Linked DNA regions of Homo sapiens: region 2 is linked to region 1. Evidence: fine-mapped expression QTL. Tissue or cell type: whole blood. Region 1 holds a variant in brackets; the other region holds the start of a gene. All regions are shown on one strand. Distances are from middle to middle.

What was found. PIP is the estimated chance that this variant, and not a neighbour inherited with it, causes the effect.
Region 2: it holds the start of RBM3, and the variant in region 1 is fine-mapped to the expression of RBM3 in whole blood (TOPMed, PIP above 0.99).

The regions. Positions count from the first base shown.
Region 1 is chrX:48,542,233-48,550,494 of GRCh38, forward strand. TBC1D25 (TBC1 domain family member 25) reads left to right here. Exons shown (of 6, transcript NM_002536.4): 3 at 2,637-2,791. Among named protein-coding and RNA genes, the nearest start is that of TBC1D25, 6.6 kb to the left of the region's middle. The variant G/A (reference allele first, on the strand shown) is at 3,387.
Region 2 is chrX:48,569,709-48,577,708 of GRCh38, forward strand. It overlaps RBM3 (RNA binding motif protein 3), which reads left to right and starts at 4,776. Exons shown (of 7, transcript NM_006743.5): 1 at 4,776-4,865; 2 at 5,460-5,575; 3 at 5,853-5,959; 4 at 6,606-6,711; 5 at 6,800-6,896; 6 at 7,318-7,401; 7 at 7,757-8,000. The coding sequence starts at 5,473. The coding sequence ends at 7,378. RefSeq lists a cis regulatory region at 3,909-4,894 and enhancers at 4,651-5,850, 4,834-5,103.

The DNA of each region.
Region 1 (8,262 bases):
GTCTCAGCTCACTGCAACCTCCGCTTCCCGGGTTCAAGTGATTCTCCTGCCTCAGCCTCCCAAGTAGCTGGGATTACAGGCACGCACCACCACGCCTGCTAATTTTTGTATTTTTATTAGAGACAAGGTTTCACCATGTTGGTCAGGCTAGTCTCGAACACCTGACCTCAAGTTACCTGTCCACCTCGGCCTCCCAAAGTGCTAGGATTACAGGTGTAAGCCCCCGCACCCAGTCCCAGATAGTTTTTTGATCTTCTCTTTTTTTTTTTTTTGGAGACAGAGTCTCACTCTGTCACTTAGGTTGGAGTGCAGTGGTCCGATGTTGGCTCATTGCAGCCTTTGCCTCCCGGGTTCAAGTGATTCTCATGCCTCAGCCTCCAGAGTAGCTGGGATTACAGGTGTGCACCACCACACTCAGCTAATTTTCATGAGGTTGGTCAGGCTGGTCTCAAACTCCTGATCTCAAGTGATCCGCCCACCTCGGCCTCCCAAAGTGTTAGGATTACAGGCACGTGAGCCTCCGCACCCGGCCAATTTTTTGTATCTTTAGTAGAGACAGGGTTTCGCCATGTTGCCCAGGGCAGTCTCAAACTCCTGAGCTCAAGCAATCCGCCCGCCTCAGCCTCTCAAAGTGCTGGGATTACAGGTGAGCCACTGCGCCCAGCCAAATGCATTGTCAACTTACAGTATTTCCAACTTACGATGAGTTTATTGGTACATAACCCTGTCATAAGTCAAGAAGCATCTGTATTGTCATAATTGTTCTATTATTGTTAATCTCTTACTGTGCCTAATTTATCAATTAAACCTTATCATAGGTATGTATGTATATGAAAAAAAACATAGTATATATAGGGCTTGGTACTATCTGCAGTTTCAGGCATCCACTCGGGGGGGTCTTGGAATGTATCCCCTGTAGATAAAGAGGGACTACTGTATTTGGAAACATCTAGTCATAGGATAAATTCCTAGCAGTGGTATTGCCAGGTAAAAGGGTATTTGCTTTAAAAAAAATTTTTTTTTTGAGACAGTCTCATTCTGTCGTCCAGGCTGGAGTGCAGTGGTGTGATCTCGTCTCATTGCAACCTCCACCTCCTGAGTTCAAGCAATTCTCCTGCCTCGGCCTCCTGAGTAGCTGGTACTACAGGCGTGCGCCACCATGCCCGGCTAATTTTTGTATTTTTAGTAGAGATGGGGTTTCACCGTGTTGGCCAGGATCGTCTCGATCTCCTGACCTCGTGATCCACCCGCCTCAGCCTCCCAAAGTGCTGGGATTACAGGCATGAGCCACCGCACCTGGCCTGCTTTTTGAACTATTAATGGGTGTTTCCAAAATGCTCTCCAGACAGGTTTTATCAATTTATGATCTCAGCCGGGCGCTGTGGCTCATGCCTGTAATCCCAGCACTTTGGGAGGCTGAGGCAGGTGGATCACGAGGTCAGGAGATCAAGACCATCCTGGCTAACACGGTGAAACTCCGTCTCTACTAAAAATACAAAAAATTCTCCAGGCGTGGTGGTGGGCGCCTGTAGTCCCAGCTACTTGGGAGGCTGAGGCAGGAGAATGGCATGGGCCCGGGAGGCGGAGCTTGCAGCGAGCCGAGATCGCACCATTGCACTCCAGACTGGGCGACAGAGTGAGACTCCGTCTCAAAAAAAAAAAAAAACGAATTTATGATCTCATCAGCAGCACATAAATGCCTGTTTCCCTCACACCCTCGCAAACATTGGTTACTGTAAAACTGCAAAATTTGCCAATCTGATAGCTGAAAAGTGGTGTCTCTTGGGGGCAGATGTGATAGTCATTTTGTTGTGATTTTGGAGGAATACATACACATGGTAAGAAATTCAAACAGTACACAATTGTTGGGTATTTAGGATGTTTCCATGGTTATGATGAGCATCACGCAACAAACTTCTTTACATAGTTGCACAAGTATAGCTGAAAAATTCTTAGTTGTTATTAGACTTTCTTACATAAACATTTTTGTTGTGAAAAATAACAAACACAGATTGCTTTTTTTTTATGTAGTAAGAAGGCTGCTTTCTTCCCACTTCTGTCCCACATCTACCCCAGAGGGGACCAACTTTTTTTTTTTTTTTTGAGATGGAGTCTTGCTCTGTCACCCAGGTTGGAGTGCAATGCCACAATCTTGGCTCACTGCAACCTCCACCTCCCAGGTTCAAGCGATTCTCCTGCCTCAGCCTCCTGAGTAGCTGGGATTACAGGCACCTGCCACCACACCCAGCTAATTTTTTTTGTATTTTTAGTACAGAAGGGGTTTCACCATGTTGACCAGGCTAGTCTCAAACTCCTGACCTCAGGTGATCCACCCACCTCGGCCTCCCAAAGTGCGGAGATTATAGGCGTGAGCCACTGCACCCGGCCAACATTTTACCAGTTTCCAATGTGACCTCCAGATACAAGCAGGTGTGTACCTGCTTGTATGTGTTTGTGTAACAAAGTGGGTATAAATGACCTGATCTCAGGCTGCCCATAATCCTTGGCACAGTACCTTGCACATAGTAGGAAGTTGTTTTCAACGCCTTCTATATTACCCTCCTTGTTTTGGAAACTGTCCCTGAGGCCTCCAGGGCACCAGGGGCCCTGAGAGCTCCCTCGTATCCCCTGTCCAGGAAGAAGAACTTTGGCATCAGCTACCTGGGCCGGGACCGGCTAGGACAGGAAGTTTACCTCTCACTTCTATCTGACTGGGACCTCAGCACAGCCTTTGCCACTGCCTCCAAACCTTACCTGCAATTGCGTGTAGATATTCGGCCCTCGGAGGACAGTGAGTACTCAGTGCCCCCAGGAGCACTGCTCTGGAACCCCTTTACCCCATAGGGTGATGCTACCCCTCACAGTACACTCCCTCATGGTGGGATGGGTAGCAAGGTATCCTAGCTATAGATCCTGGCTCAGCCACTAGGCCACAATTTCTTCACTTGTAAAGAGATAATTGTATCTTAGAACCATTGTGAGGCCTTGTATCTTAGAACCATTGTGAGGGGAAATTCATATAAAATGCCTGGAACAGTGCATGACTGCATAATGAAGGCTCAGAAAGTGTTATCTCTAATAATGATAATTATATTGTATTATACTATTATAACATATAACCGAGTAATGTATGTAATAATTAGATATAATGCAGATTTATAATATAGTATAACGGTATAGCTTTAGCATTATGTATTTCAGTTATAATACCTAAATATAACAATGCGTATTATAATAATGCTAGTTGTGTTTATTCATTCAGTCATTCTGCACCCATATTCATTTGTTTGTATTCTTGCTCACTCATTCATTTGTTCCCTTGACCTCTCAGCCACTTTTTCTCTTCTCATCTTTGTTCTTCCACTCTTGCCTATTCTGGTCCCTGC[G/A]AGCACACAGATAAATTAGGACGTGGTCTCAAAATTTGATTACAGACCATACATTAGATAATTGTATCAGTATTAAATTTCCTGGGTGTGTGTCTTAGTCGTTTTGTGCTACTATAACAGAATACCACAGACTGAGGAATTTGTAAAGAAGAGAAATTTATTTCTCACAGTTTTGGAGACTGGGAAGTCCAAGATCAAGGTGCTGGCAGGTTGTGTGTCTAGTGAGGGCTTTCTTGCTGCATCCTCACATGACAGAAGAGCAGAAGAGAGTGAACCCACACCCTCAACCTCTTTATAAGAGCCCAAATCCGCTGGGCACGGTGGCTCATGCCTGTAGTCCCAGCACTTTGGGAGGCTGAGGCAGGCGGATCACCTGAAGTCAGGAGTTCGAGACCATCCTGGCCAACATGGTGAAACCCTGTCTCTACTAAAAAAAATACAAAAATTAGCCGGGTGTAGTGGCACATGCCTATAATCCCAGCTACTCGGGAGGCTGAGGCATGAGAATCGCTTGAACCCGAAAAGCAGAGGTTGCAGTGAGCCAAGATCTTGCCACTGCACTCCAGCCTGGGTGACAGAGCGAGACTTCATCTCAAAAAAAAAAAAAAAAAGAGGCTGAGCACGGTGGCTCACGCCTGTAATCCCAGCAGTTTAGGAGGCCGAGGCGGGCAGATCACAAGGTCAGGAGATCGAGACCACCCTGGCTAACACGGTGAAACCCTGTCTTTACTAAAAATACAAAAAAATAGCCGGGCGTGGTGGCGGGTGCCTGTAGTCCCAGCTACTCGGGAGGCTGAGGCAGGAGAATGGCATGAACCCGGGAGGCGGAGCTTGCAGTGAGCCAAGATCGCACCACTGCACTCCAGCCTGGGCAACAGAGCAAGACTCCATCTCAAAAAATAAATAAAATAAAAAATAAAAAAAGAGCCCTAATCCCATCTGTGAGAGCTCTACCCTCAGGACTTAATCACCTCTTAAAGGCCCCCACCTCTTAATATGATCACATTGGTAATTAAATTGCAACACATGAATTTGGAAGGACACATTCAAACCATAGCAGTGTGGTAGTGGTATCATATCTATTGAAGGAAAATATCCTTGTTCTTGGGAAAGACACAGTTAAGTATGAAGGGGTAAAATGTCATGATGTCTGCAAATAAGTTGGCAAAAATAATGTGTTTATATACAGAGAGAGTGAGATAAAGCAAATGTGGCCCAAAAAAATGTTAATAGAGGATCTAGATGAAGTATGTATGGGTGTTCAGTGTATTCTTTTAACTTTATTGTAGGTTCAAAATTGTTTTAAATAGTTGTGGAGTGGAAGATGTGGTTCCCAGCCTCAGGAAACTCATGTGCCCATTTGGGATGAGTCGAGCACTTTATTGATGTCATAATAACATATAACTAGCTAATGTGTAGTGAACACTTAGGGCCATTCTGTGCACATAATATTTTTTCACTGAATTGTCAAAATAATCCTATAGAGTAGGGACAATCATTTTCCCCATATTATAGATGAGGAAACTGAGGCTCAGAGAGGTGACAGGACTCGTCCCAGTTATACAGACAGTAAGTTGAAGAGCAAGATTTGAACTCAGGCAGTGGCTGAACTGGCTCCAGAGTCCTTGTTCTTAACCATTTAACTCTACAACATTTTGGACTTGTTAAAATTGGCAGCTTTGCAAAAGAGAGACAGAGGAGAGAGAGAAACAAGAGTCAGAGGGAAAGATAGTGACAGAGATGGGCAGGAAGCCAAATAGGAAAAGCCAGGTAGCCAGACACACAGGAACCTCTGCCACTGAGTAGCCATATGTGCTTATGTCAGTCACTTAATTCCCTGGGCCTTGTTTTCCTCACCTGTTAAAGAGACACAGTAGCACTATTTCAGGAAAAAAATCAAATCTGCATGGCTACGAAACATGTGGAGAAAACCCCAAGTGCATGAGAACTGGGACGAATGCCAGTAAAGCAGAGAGACAGACAGAAAGACACCCAGTAGTCTGGCAGGAATACATCTTTAAAAGGTTATCTTTTTAGGCCAGGCGCCGTGGCTCACGCCTGTAATCCCAGCACTTTGGGAGGCCGAGGCGGGTGGATCACCTGAGGTCAGGAGTTCGAGACCAGCCTGGCCAAACATGGCGAAACCCTGTCTCTACTAAAAATACAGAAATTAGCCGGGCGTGGTGGTAGGCGCCTGTAATCCCAGCTACTCGGGAGACTGAGGCAGGAGAATTGCTTGAGCCTGGGAGGCGGAGGTTGCAATGATCCGAGCTCGTGCCACCGCACTCCAGCCTGAGTGACAGAACTAGACTCCATCTCAAAAAAAAAAAAAAAAAAGCCCTCTGTCTTATTTACCAAATTCCTGCACAACATCGGTCTGTTTCTGAATTCCTGATTCTCTTACGTTGATCTATTTATTAAATTATAAGCCAATTCTATGTTGTTTTAATCATTGTAGTAGTTTGTTTTCTGTTTGTTTGTTTGGTTTTGAGGGTTTTTTTTTTGTTTTTTTTTTGAGACAGGGTCTCACTCTGTCATCCTTGCTGGAGTGCAGTGGCCCAATCTCAGCTCACTGCAGCCTCCACCTCCCAGGCTCAAGCAATTGTCCCACGTCAGCCTCCTGAGTAGCTGGGCCTATAGGCACATGCCCCCATGCCCAGCTAATTTTTGTATTTTTTGTAGAGACAGGGTTTCGCCGTGTTGCCCAGGCTGGTCTTGAACTCCTGGACTCAAGCAGTCTGCCCGCCTCAGCCTCCCAAAGTGCTGGGATTACAAGCAAGAGCCACCGCACCCAGCCTTAATCATTATAGTTTTATGATATGTTTTCATGTTTTCCTTTTTAAAAAATTTTCTTGAATATTCTTGTTCACTTACTGTTCTTTTTATTTAATAAATCAGCTTATTATTCCATTAAAATCCTGACGGGAATTTGATTGGAGTCATATTTTTAAGAGAAACTAATCTTTCATTACCCAGTAAATACATTCTTATTAAAAATAAAAGCATTTTAAATAATGCTGAAGTCTCCTGGGAACGCTATGCCTAATCTCAATCCCCTACCCTACCCTTTTTGCCCCGAGGGAATCGGTTTGATGTGTAACTTTGCATGTCCTTTACTTATTTACACTCCCTACACACACATTTATCCACATATGTGAGTATATTCATATTTGCGTGTCTGTACACATAAACGGTATGTGTTTAACATAAGGTATTCTACACATTAATATGTAAGTGTCCAATATATGGAGCTATCATTAGACATATTAATGGCATTCTCATGATCATTTTCATGGCTGTGAAAGCAACAGACATGTTGGGACTGTTTGGATGGCCCAGTCCCTCTTTCTGGGAAAAAGCCAGTTTCTGTCACCTCTACAGTTGGGAGATTACAAAGCCTAGACCTTTGACCAATTTGTACTTTTCCGATATGAATCTTTTTTCTTTTTGAGACTCTCTTTGTCACCAAGGCTGGAATGCAGTGACGCAAATATGGCCCACTGCAGCCTTGACCTCAAGCTCTCCTCCTGCCTCAGGCTTTCAAGTAGCTGGGACTACAGGTGTGCACCACCATGCCCAGCTAATTTTTGTATTTTTTGTAGAGACATGGTTTTGCCATGTTGGCCAGGCTGGTCTCGAACTTCTGACCTCAAGTGATCCACCCACCTCGGCCTCTCAAAGTGTTTGGATTACAGGCGGGAGCCACCGTGCCCAGCCCCCAACCTCCTTTCTATCATAGGTACTGCAAATATTTTTCCCAGTTGATCTTTTGTTTTTTGGCTTTGCTTACGGGATGGATCTGTTTTGTCCTATCAAAATTAAACATTTGATTGCACGCCTACACAGATATCTATCTTTTTCTTTATGATTTCTGAGTTTCTCCTTTTTATTGCAGGTGGAGGGACAGAGTTTCACTCTCATTGCCCAGGCTGGAGTGCGATGGCGCGATCTCGGCTCACTGCAACCTCCGCCTCCTGGGTTCAAGTGATTCTCCTGCCTCAGCCTCCCAAGTAGCTGGGATTACAGGCATGTGCCACTACACCTGGCTACTTTTGTATTTTTAGTAGAGATGGAGTTTCACCATGTTGGTCAGGCTGGTATCGAATTCCTGATCTCAAGTGATCCACCTGCCTGGGCCTCCCAAAGTGGTGGGATTACAGGCATGAGCCACTGTGCCTGGCTGAGTTTCTCCTATTACTTTGGAACATGTTCCCCATCCATAAGCTTATACAAATATTCTATATTTTCTTCTACTATGCTTATTGTTTTCTTTTTTACATATAAATCTTTTCTCTGTCAGCATTGTGATAAGCAGACCTAGCTTTAAAAAAATCAAGATAGTCAATTATGCCAGCATCATTTTTTTTAATTTAATTTTTTTTTTTGAGACGAAGTTTTACTCTTATCGCCCAGGCAGGAGTGCAGTTGCACAATCTCAGCTCACTGCAGCCGCCGTCTCCTGGGTTCAAGCAATTCTCCTGACTCAGCCTCCCAAATAGCTGGGATTACAGGTGCCCGCCACCATGCCTAGCTAATTTTTGTATTTTTAGTAGAGATGAGGTTTTGCCATGTTGGCCAGGTTGGTGTCGAACTTATGACCTCAGGTGATCCACCCACTTCAGCCTCCCAAAGTGCTGAGATTACAGGCATGAGCCACTGCGCCCGGCCTGCCAGCATCATTTATTAAATAATCACCTTTTCTGCAGTGATTCGAAATGCCACGTTTGTCACATATTCAGTTTCCATATATACAAGCTTGGATTTATTTCTGGGCTTTCTATTGCATTCTACCAATGGGCTCTATTTGTCTACTGCTGTGCTAACACCATGTTATTTTTATGACAGTGGTTTTGTGGTCAAATTTTTTTTTTTTTTT
Region 2 (8,000 bases), 27 kb after region 1:
AAATCAAAAGCATTTCTGTATAGCAGCAATAACCAACAAAAAAAAAAAGTAGGAATGAATTTAATACAAGAGACCTCTATTTTAAAGAATTTAAACTCTAACAATAGAAATTGATCTGAATAAAAGAGAGACATTTTATGCTCTTTGCTGGAAAGATTTTGGTAATATATAAGTTATTTTTAACAAATTATCCCAAAACTTAGTGGCTAAAACAATACACATTTATTATTTCACATGGTTTTGGAGAGTCAGGATTCTGAGAGTGGCTTAACTGGGTGGTTCTGACTCAGAGCCTCTCATGAGGCTACAATCAGGATGTTGGCCAGGACTGCAGTTATCTGAAGGCTGGGATCCACCTTTAAGAAGGCTTGCTCACATGGCTGTTGGCAAGAGGCCTTACTTTCTTGCCACCTAGATCCCTCCATAGGGCTGCTCATGACATACCAGCTAATGTCCCACATAATGAGCAGTCTGTGTGACAGAGAGCATGAAGCAGATGTGCCTTTTACAGCCTGGTCTTGGAAATGACACACTATCACTTCCACCTCATTCTGTGCTTTACAATTGAGTCACTAAGTCCAGCACACATGCAAGTGGAAGGAAGTTAGGCTCCAACTCTTGACGAGTACAGTATCAGAGTGTGACCATATCTTAAAACCTCCACAGTTAATATTATTAAGATGTTATTTTGGCCGGGCATGGTGGCTCACACCTGTAATCCCAGCACTTTGGGAGGCCGAGGTGGGTGGATCACCTGAGGTCAGGAGTTTGAGACCAGCCTGACCAACATAGACAAACCCCGTCTCTGCTAAAAATACAAAATTAGCCGAGCATAATGGTGGGTGCCTGTAGTTCCAGCTACCCAGGAGGCTGAAGCAGGAGAATTGCTTGAACCCGGGAGGCGGAGGTTGCAGTGAGCCGAGATTGCACCATTTTACTCCAGCCTGGGCAACAAGAGCGAAACTCCATCTCAAAAAAAAAGACGTTATTTCTCCCAAAATGTAAAAATTCAATGCACTCTCAATAACACTTCCATTACTTTTTTTTTTAATGTTTTGAAACAGGGTCTCACTTTGTTGCCCAGGCTGGAGTGCAGTGGCACGATCATAGCTCACTGCAGACTCCAACTCCTGGGTTCAAGCGATCCTCCTGCCTCAGCCTCCCAGGTAGCTGGGATTTGGGCGAGAGCCACCATGCCTGACCTCATTACTTCTTTTTGTTAGAACTGCAATACACTTACATTAGAATTTAGAATAGTAATGAATCATGGACAGTTAAGACAGCCTTCAAAGAAAGCGTTATGATGGGGATTTGCCCACTAGATATTAAGACATATTAAAGGTGTTAGTAATAAAAGGGAAAAAAAAAACAACAACAAACCTATATTGGCCCAAGAGCTAAGAAGTAGACCAATTAGAAGAGAAGGCCGGGCACGGTGGCTCACACCTGTAATACCAGCACTTTTGGAGGCCGAGGTGGGCAGATCACAAGGTCAGGAGATCCAGACCACGGTGAAACCCCGCCTCTACTAAAAAATACAAAAAAAAAAAATTGGCTGGGTGCGGTAGCAGGCGCCTGTAGTCCCAGCTACTCGGGAGGCTGAGGCGTGAACCTGGAAGGCAGAGCTTACAGTGAGCCGAGATCGCGCCACTGCACTCCAGCCTGAGCGACAGAGCGAGACTCCGTCTCAAAAAAAAAGACCATCCTGGCCAACATGGTGAAACCCCATCTCTACTAAAAATACAAAAATTAGCTGGGCGTGGTTGCACGCGCCTGTAGTCCCAGCTACTCAGGAGGCTGAGGCAGGAAAATCACTTGAACCCAGGAGGCGGAGGTTGCAGTGAGCCAAGATCGCGCCACTGCACTCCAGCCTGGCGACAGAGTGAGACTCTGTCAAAAAAAAAAAAAAAGCTCAGAAGTCAGGTACAATAGTGCTCCCCTGTAATCCCAGTTACTCAGGAGGCTGAGTTGGGGAGAATGCTTGAGGCCAGGAGTCAGCCTGGGCTCATCTCTTAAAAACAACAATAACAACAAAACCAGCAACAAACCACCTCAGAGACAGACCCATATATCTATGGAACTTGATACATGATAGAGGTGGTAAAACACACACAGGGATGGGACAGATTGCTTAATAGATGGTGATGGGGCATCTGGCTCATGACACAGAGAAAAATAAAATTGGAGCTCTATCTCACACCATATACAAGGACGAACTCTACATGGATTAAAGACCTAAATGTGGCCGGGTGCGGTGGCTCATGCCTGTAATCCCAGCACTTTGGGAGGCCGAGGCAGGCGAATCACTTGAGGCCAGGAGTTCAAGACCAGCCTGGCCAACATGGCAAAAACCTGTCTCTACTAAAAATGCAAAAATTAGCCAGGTGTGGTGGCACACACCTGTAATCCTAGCTACGCAGCAGGCTGAGGCAGGAGAATTGCTTGAACCCAGGAGGCGGAGGTTGCAGTGAGCCGAGATAGTGCCATTGCACTCCAGCCTGGGCAACAAGAGCGAAACTCTGTCAAAAAAAAAAAAAAAGAAAGAAAGAAAGAAACTGTAGGGGAACATTTTGTGACCTGGGAAAGAGAATGATTTCTTTAAAAGCACAGACCAGGCCGGGCGTGGTGGCTCACGCCTGTAATCCCAGCACTTTGGGAGGCCGAGGCAGGCGGATCATGAAGTCAGGAGTTTGAGAACAGCCTGAACAACATGGTGAAACCTCATCTCTACTAAAAATACAAAAATTAGCTGGGCATAGTGGCACATGCCCGTAATCCCAGCTACTCAGGAGACTAAAGCAGGAGAATCACTTGAACCTGGGAGGCGGAGGTTGCAGTGAGCTGAGATCATGCCACTGCACTCCAGCCTGAGCGACAGAGTGAGACTCCGTCTCAGAAAAAAGCACAGAACATAGGGGGAAAAATGATTATATCAAAATTATGGATCTTTATTCAACTAAGTTTACTGCTTACAAAGTTAATAACACAAATGCCAGAGCTGGAGAGGCTATTTCCAACACCTAAGGGATTAATAATTAGACTATGTGAGGAATCCCTGACAATAACAGGAAGATAAATATGGGAATTACCCCAACAGGAATATGGATGTACTGTATTCTGTATGTTAGCAAATTTGGTCTGTGTTGGGCAAATTCATTCTATGGATAAGAAATTTAGCCTCTGAGGGCAAACTAACTTATTCTTCGTTGATGTGGCGCTCAGAAGTGAAAAATCTGTCAAATCCATTTATTGTAAAGGTGGCCAAGACACTGAAGACTAAATTGTGAACAGTGGGCTCAGACACTACTTGATTGGGATAAGTCTATTGTGTATTGCGAAAGTCCCTTCTGTGAATCAAGGGCTCAGTTACTTTTTTTTTTTTTTTGAGACTGAGTCTTGCTCTGTCGCCCAAGCTGGAGTGCAGTGGCATGATCTCAGCTCACTGCAACCTCCACCTCCCGGGTTCAAGCGATTATCCCGCCTCAGCCTCCTGAGTAGCTGGGACTACAGGTGCCTACCACCACGCCCGGCTAATTTTTTTTTTTTTTTGTATTGTTAGTAGAGACAGGGTTTCACCATATTGGCCAGGGTAGTCTTGAACTCCTGACCTTGTGATCTGCCCACTTCGGCCTCCCAAAGTGCTGGGATTACAGGCATGAGCCACTGCGCCCGGCAAGGGCTCAGTTACTTTCGAAGAGAGCAAAAATTGCTCTATGGATTGGGATTTACAACCTCTGAAGATCGTAGCATCCTCTTTTGTTTTGTTTTGTTTTCACCCAGGCTGGAGTGCAATGGCGTGGTCTCGGCTCACTGCAACCTCCGCCTCCCGGGTTCAAGCGATTTTCCAGCCTCAGCCTCCCGAGTAGGTGGGACTACAGGCACGTGCCACCACACCCAGCTAATTTTTTTTTTCTTTTTTTTTTTTTTTTTTTTTTTTTGTATTTTTAGTAGAGATGGGGTTTCACCATGTTGGCCATGCAGGTCTCGAACTCCTGAACTCGTGAACCGCCCGCTTTGGCCTCCCAAAGTGCTGGGAATACAGGCGTGAGCCACCGCGCCCGGCCAGCATCCTGTTTTGTAAAAGCCATCTCAGGCAGTCTATTGGTGAGAAAATTAAGGGGCTGGCTTCACGCCAGCAGTCAGACAAGGGTGAGGGCTGAAGTCAGAGATGAGATGGAATGACGCCAGGGAAAAGGGTCCCATGACAGGCGGCTAGATGTTGAGCACAGAGGAGAAAGAGTAGGAGTCAGGGTCAAACCTTAAAACGTTGGGTCTGACATCATGGACTGTGAAGGGTGATGACATCAGTGACGGTGGGGGATAAAATGTCAGGCCTTTAAAGGGTATGAGGTTAAAGAACTAGAAGGTGAAGGAGGTTAACATCAGAGAATGGCAGGGACCTAGAGGAAGACGACTACGATGGTGAGGAAGACATCCGATCCAGCGGGGGAAATGATGGCAAGGACGGGAGGATGATGTCAGGGACAGCAAGTAGTATGAGATTGAGAAGGTTCCTTTGTGGAAGGGATAAAGGCAGCTCAGCCGGTTGTGGGGGGGATGCTGACGTTTAGGGTGCACCAGCTGTTCAAAAGTCGACCCCATTTCCGGAAACACCCCATTTCCGGAAACACCCCATTTCGCGGAGAACACTGCTCCCTTCGCTTTGCTGTCCCTTCCTCTCCCCACCACTCCGCTCCTGCTGGCCTCAGCCAATCAGCACGCACGCCGGGACGCGCAAGGGGAACGTTCCGGGACGTTCTCGCTACGTACTCTTTATCAATCGTCTTCCGGCGCAGCCCCGTCCCTGTTTTTTGTGCTCCTCCGAGCTCGCTGTTCGTCCGGGTTTTTTACGTTTTAATTTCCAGGTAAGTTGCATATGTCCTGCGAAACGGCGGCTCCTCGCCACACACGCGCCGCGCCGGCCGTGACCGGGGAATAGCGAGTGGGGAGAGTAATGGCCACTGACACGTAGGCTTGGCTTTCTCTGGGACGGGCGGGTCCCGTGCTTGGAGGTGAAACATTTCGGTTGGTGGGAGGCCGGCGCGCTGTATCTGAGTGTGAGGCCTACCGGGAGGGACTGGTGGCGTCGGTGGTGGCAGTGACCACGCGACAGCCGACACTTACTTTCCTTATCCCACGTGGCCGCCGCCATCTTGTTCTGCCGGCGTTAAGGGAACGCAGGGATGTTCTGGGCTTGCGCAGTGGCACAAAATGACGGGCGTGGCGGCTATGAATGTGAGAGCATGCGCAATGTGGCCCCCTAATGGTGGCTGCGCTGAGCCAGCTCCTCAGATTACCACCTTATTGGCCGCCTTTCTCAGCTTTTCTGTAGTTACCCATATTTTGTTCCTCTTTCTTGTCTATTTTCTGTGCTTTTTCTCTGCTTTCCGTCTCGCTATTTTCTCACATCTCCATTTTCTTTCTCCTTCCTGCCACCATTCTTCATGTTCTTCCCACAGGACTTGAACTGCCATGTCCTCTGAAGAAGGAAAGCTCTTCGTGGGAGGGCTCAACTTTAACACCGACGAGCAGGCACTGGAAGACCACTTCAGCAGTTTCGGACCTATCTCTGAGGGTGAGACGGGCCATACTCACAATGGGGGTTGGTGAGAGAAAGTCTGGGATCCTTGCATTTCAAGGAGTATTAACTGAAAAGTTAGGACCCACGCCTCCAAATTCTTTTTCTTCCTAAGCCTATGGTGTAGACTAAGGATGAGGGGAAGCGTCTTTGGGATTAGTGGGAGCGCTCCGTTTTCCCTACCTATGCCATCTCCTTTTCCGGCCACCCTTTGCTACTTAACCTTTGGGGTACTGACTGGTCCACATTGCTCCATCTTCTCTCCCTCTCACAGTGGTCGTTGTCAAGGACCGGGAGACTCAGCGGTCCAGGGGTTTTGGTTTCATCACCTTCACCAACCCAGAGCATGCTTCAGTTGCCATGAGAGCCATGAACGGAGAGGTGGGGCCTCCTATCTGCAGAGGGACCTTGTCCCCATCTGCGGCTTCCTTCATTCTTTTTGTTTTTCCCTCTGTGTCTGCTCGGGGCAGCGTGGCCACCAAGCCCCGCAGTGCCCACTCACAGGAGCATGACTGCCTTTTGTTCTAGGGGGTGGAGGGCAGCGGCAGACAGAGCCTGGCCGCCTGGGAGGCGACGACTGGTCCTGCATGAGGCCGAGAAGCCACCTGTGGATGGTTGACCTGCCTTGGGCTTAGGTAGTAGAGTCTGCAGACCTGTGGGCCTGGCCCGGAGAGGACCTCGTGAGTCTTCTGACATGGACTCTGAAGCCTCAAACCAAGAGAGGTGTCTGTCTAGCCCTGATAGTCGGGCAGCTTAGAGGAGTGGGGAGGAGAACTCAGCCTGAGTTCAGTCAAGATGTAAGTAGTAGCAAGGGGAACATGGTGCATTCAGGTCATTTTGTGTGGGATTCTATAGCTCCTGATGAAGCCATTCTGGGGTAAAGGAGCTTATTCTGGAACATGGCACCCAGAACCTGGTGCCCAGCAGGAATTTTTGGCCTCTTTTGCCCACTTACCCTTGCCTGCTCTTCCCTCACCATTGCCCTGACTGACTGCCAACCCATCATCCTTGTGTCTCCCACACTTAGTCTCTGGATGGTCGTCAGATCCGTGTGGATCATGCAGGCAAGTCTGCTCGGGGAACCAGAGGAGGTGGCTTTGGGGCCCATGGGCGTGGTCGCAGCTACTCTAGAGGTGAGTGCAGTGATCGTTTTGATCATGGGGTGAGAGGGAGAGTTGCCTATGTGTGGACAACTGCCATTTAAATATTTTTCTGCTCTAGGTGGTGGGGACCAGGGCTATGGGAGTGGCAGGTATTATGACAGTCGACCTGGAGGGTATGGATATGGATATGGACGTTCCAGAGACTATAATGGCAGGTGGGTAGCCAAAGGGCTGGGATGTTCTCCTATTGCTTCCCTCTCCTTAAGAACTCAGCGCCTGGGTGTTCATGCATACCACACCTTGCTGTTACTAATGTGTACCTAAAATGAGTATGAAATTTAGCATTTTAAGTTAATTGTGTAGTCATATAGTTGCGACATGGTAAAGTATACTATATATGTTGTGCTGTGTGGGTTATATAACTATATTGCTTTAACATGTAATATGATTTAATATACTGCGTATAAATCGTATGCCATAAAACTGTTTACTGTGATACTCATATGCTTAACATATCCTGTTTTTGATACGTAAGGTTTATGTTATGACCCATACTGTAAAATGTGACGCATATAATTACAGTGGTATATATAATGCAGTACCAGAAAACTTTTGTGTGTTTTTTTTCCCCCCCAGAAACCAGGGTGGTTATGACCGCTACTCAGGAGGAAATTACAGAGACAATTATGACAACTGAAATGAGACATGCACATAATATAGGTGAGACTTGGATATCGGCATTGAGTGAACCTGTTTGTCACACTCTGTCATGACCCTCTCACCTTTTCTGGCAAGACTGCTCTGCATTTCTGCTGCCCTCATACCTCACCCAGCCAACCTACCAAACATTCCTAGCTAGGCCTTCCTTGCTCTCAGGTGCATATCAGAGCAAGTTTGCTAGGGGGTGGGATCTGAAAACCCATCTCCTATAATCTTCTACTCTTGTGTGGGATGGAGGAAATGAAGGTGTGTCCCTGTTGTCCAACCCTCAGCATCTTCATCAGCTCTAGGAGGTGAGCATGTTGTCAGCTGTTACTTCATGACATCACAATTCTCCCCCTCTTGCTGTTCCCAGATACACAAGGAATAATTTCTGATCCAGGATCGTCCTTCCAAATGGCTGTATTTATAAAGGTTTTTGGAGCTGCACCGAAGCATCTTATTTTATAGTATATCAACCTTTTGTTTTTAAATTGACCTGCCAAGGTAGCTGAAGACCTTTTAGACAGTTCCATCTTTTTTTTTAAATTTTTTCTGCCTATTTAAAGACAAATTATGGGACGTTTGTAGAACCTGAGTATTTTTCTTTTTACCAGTTT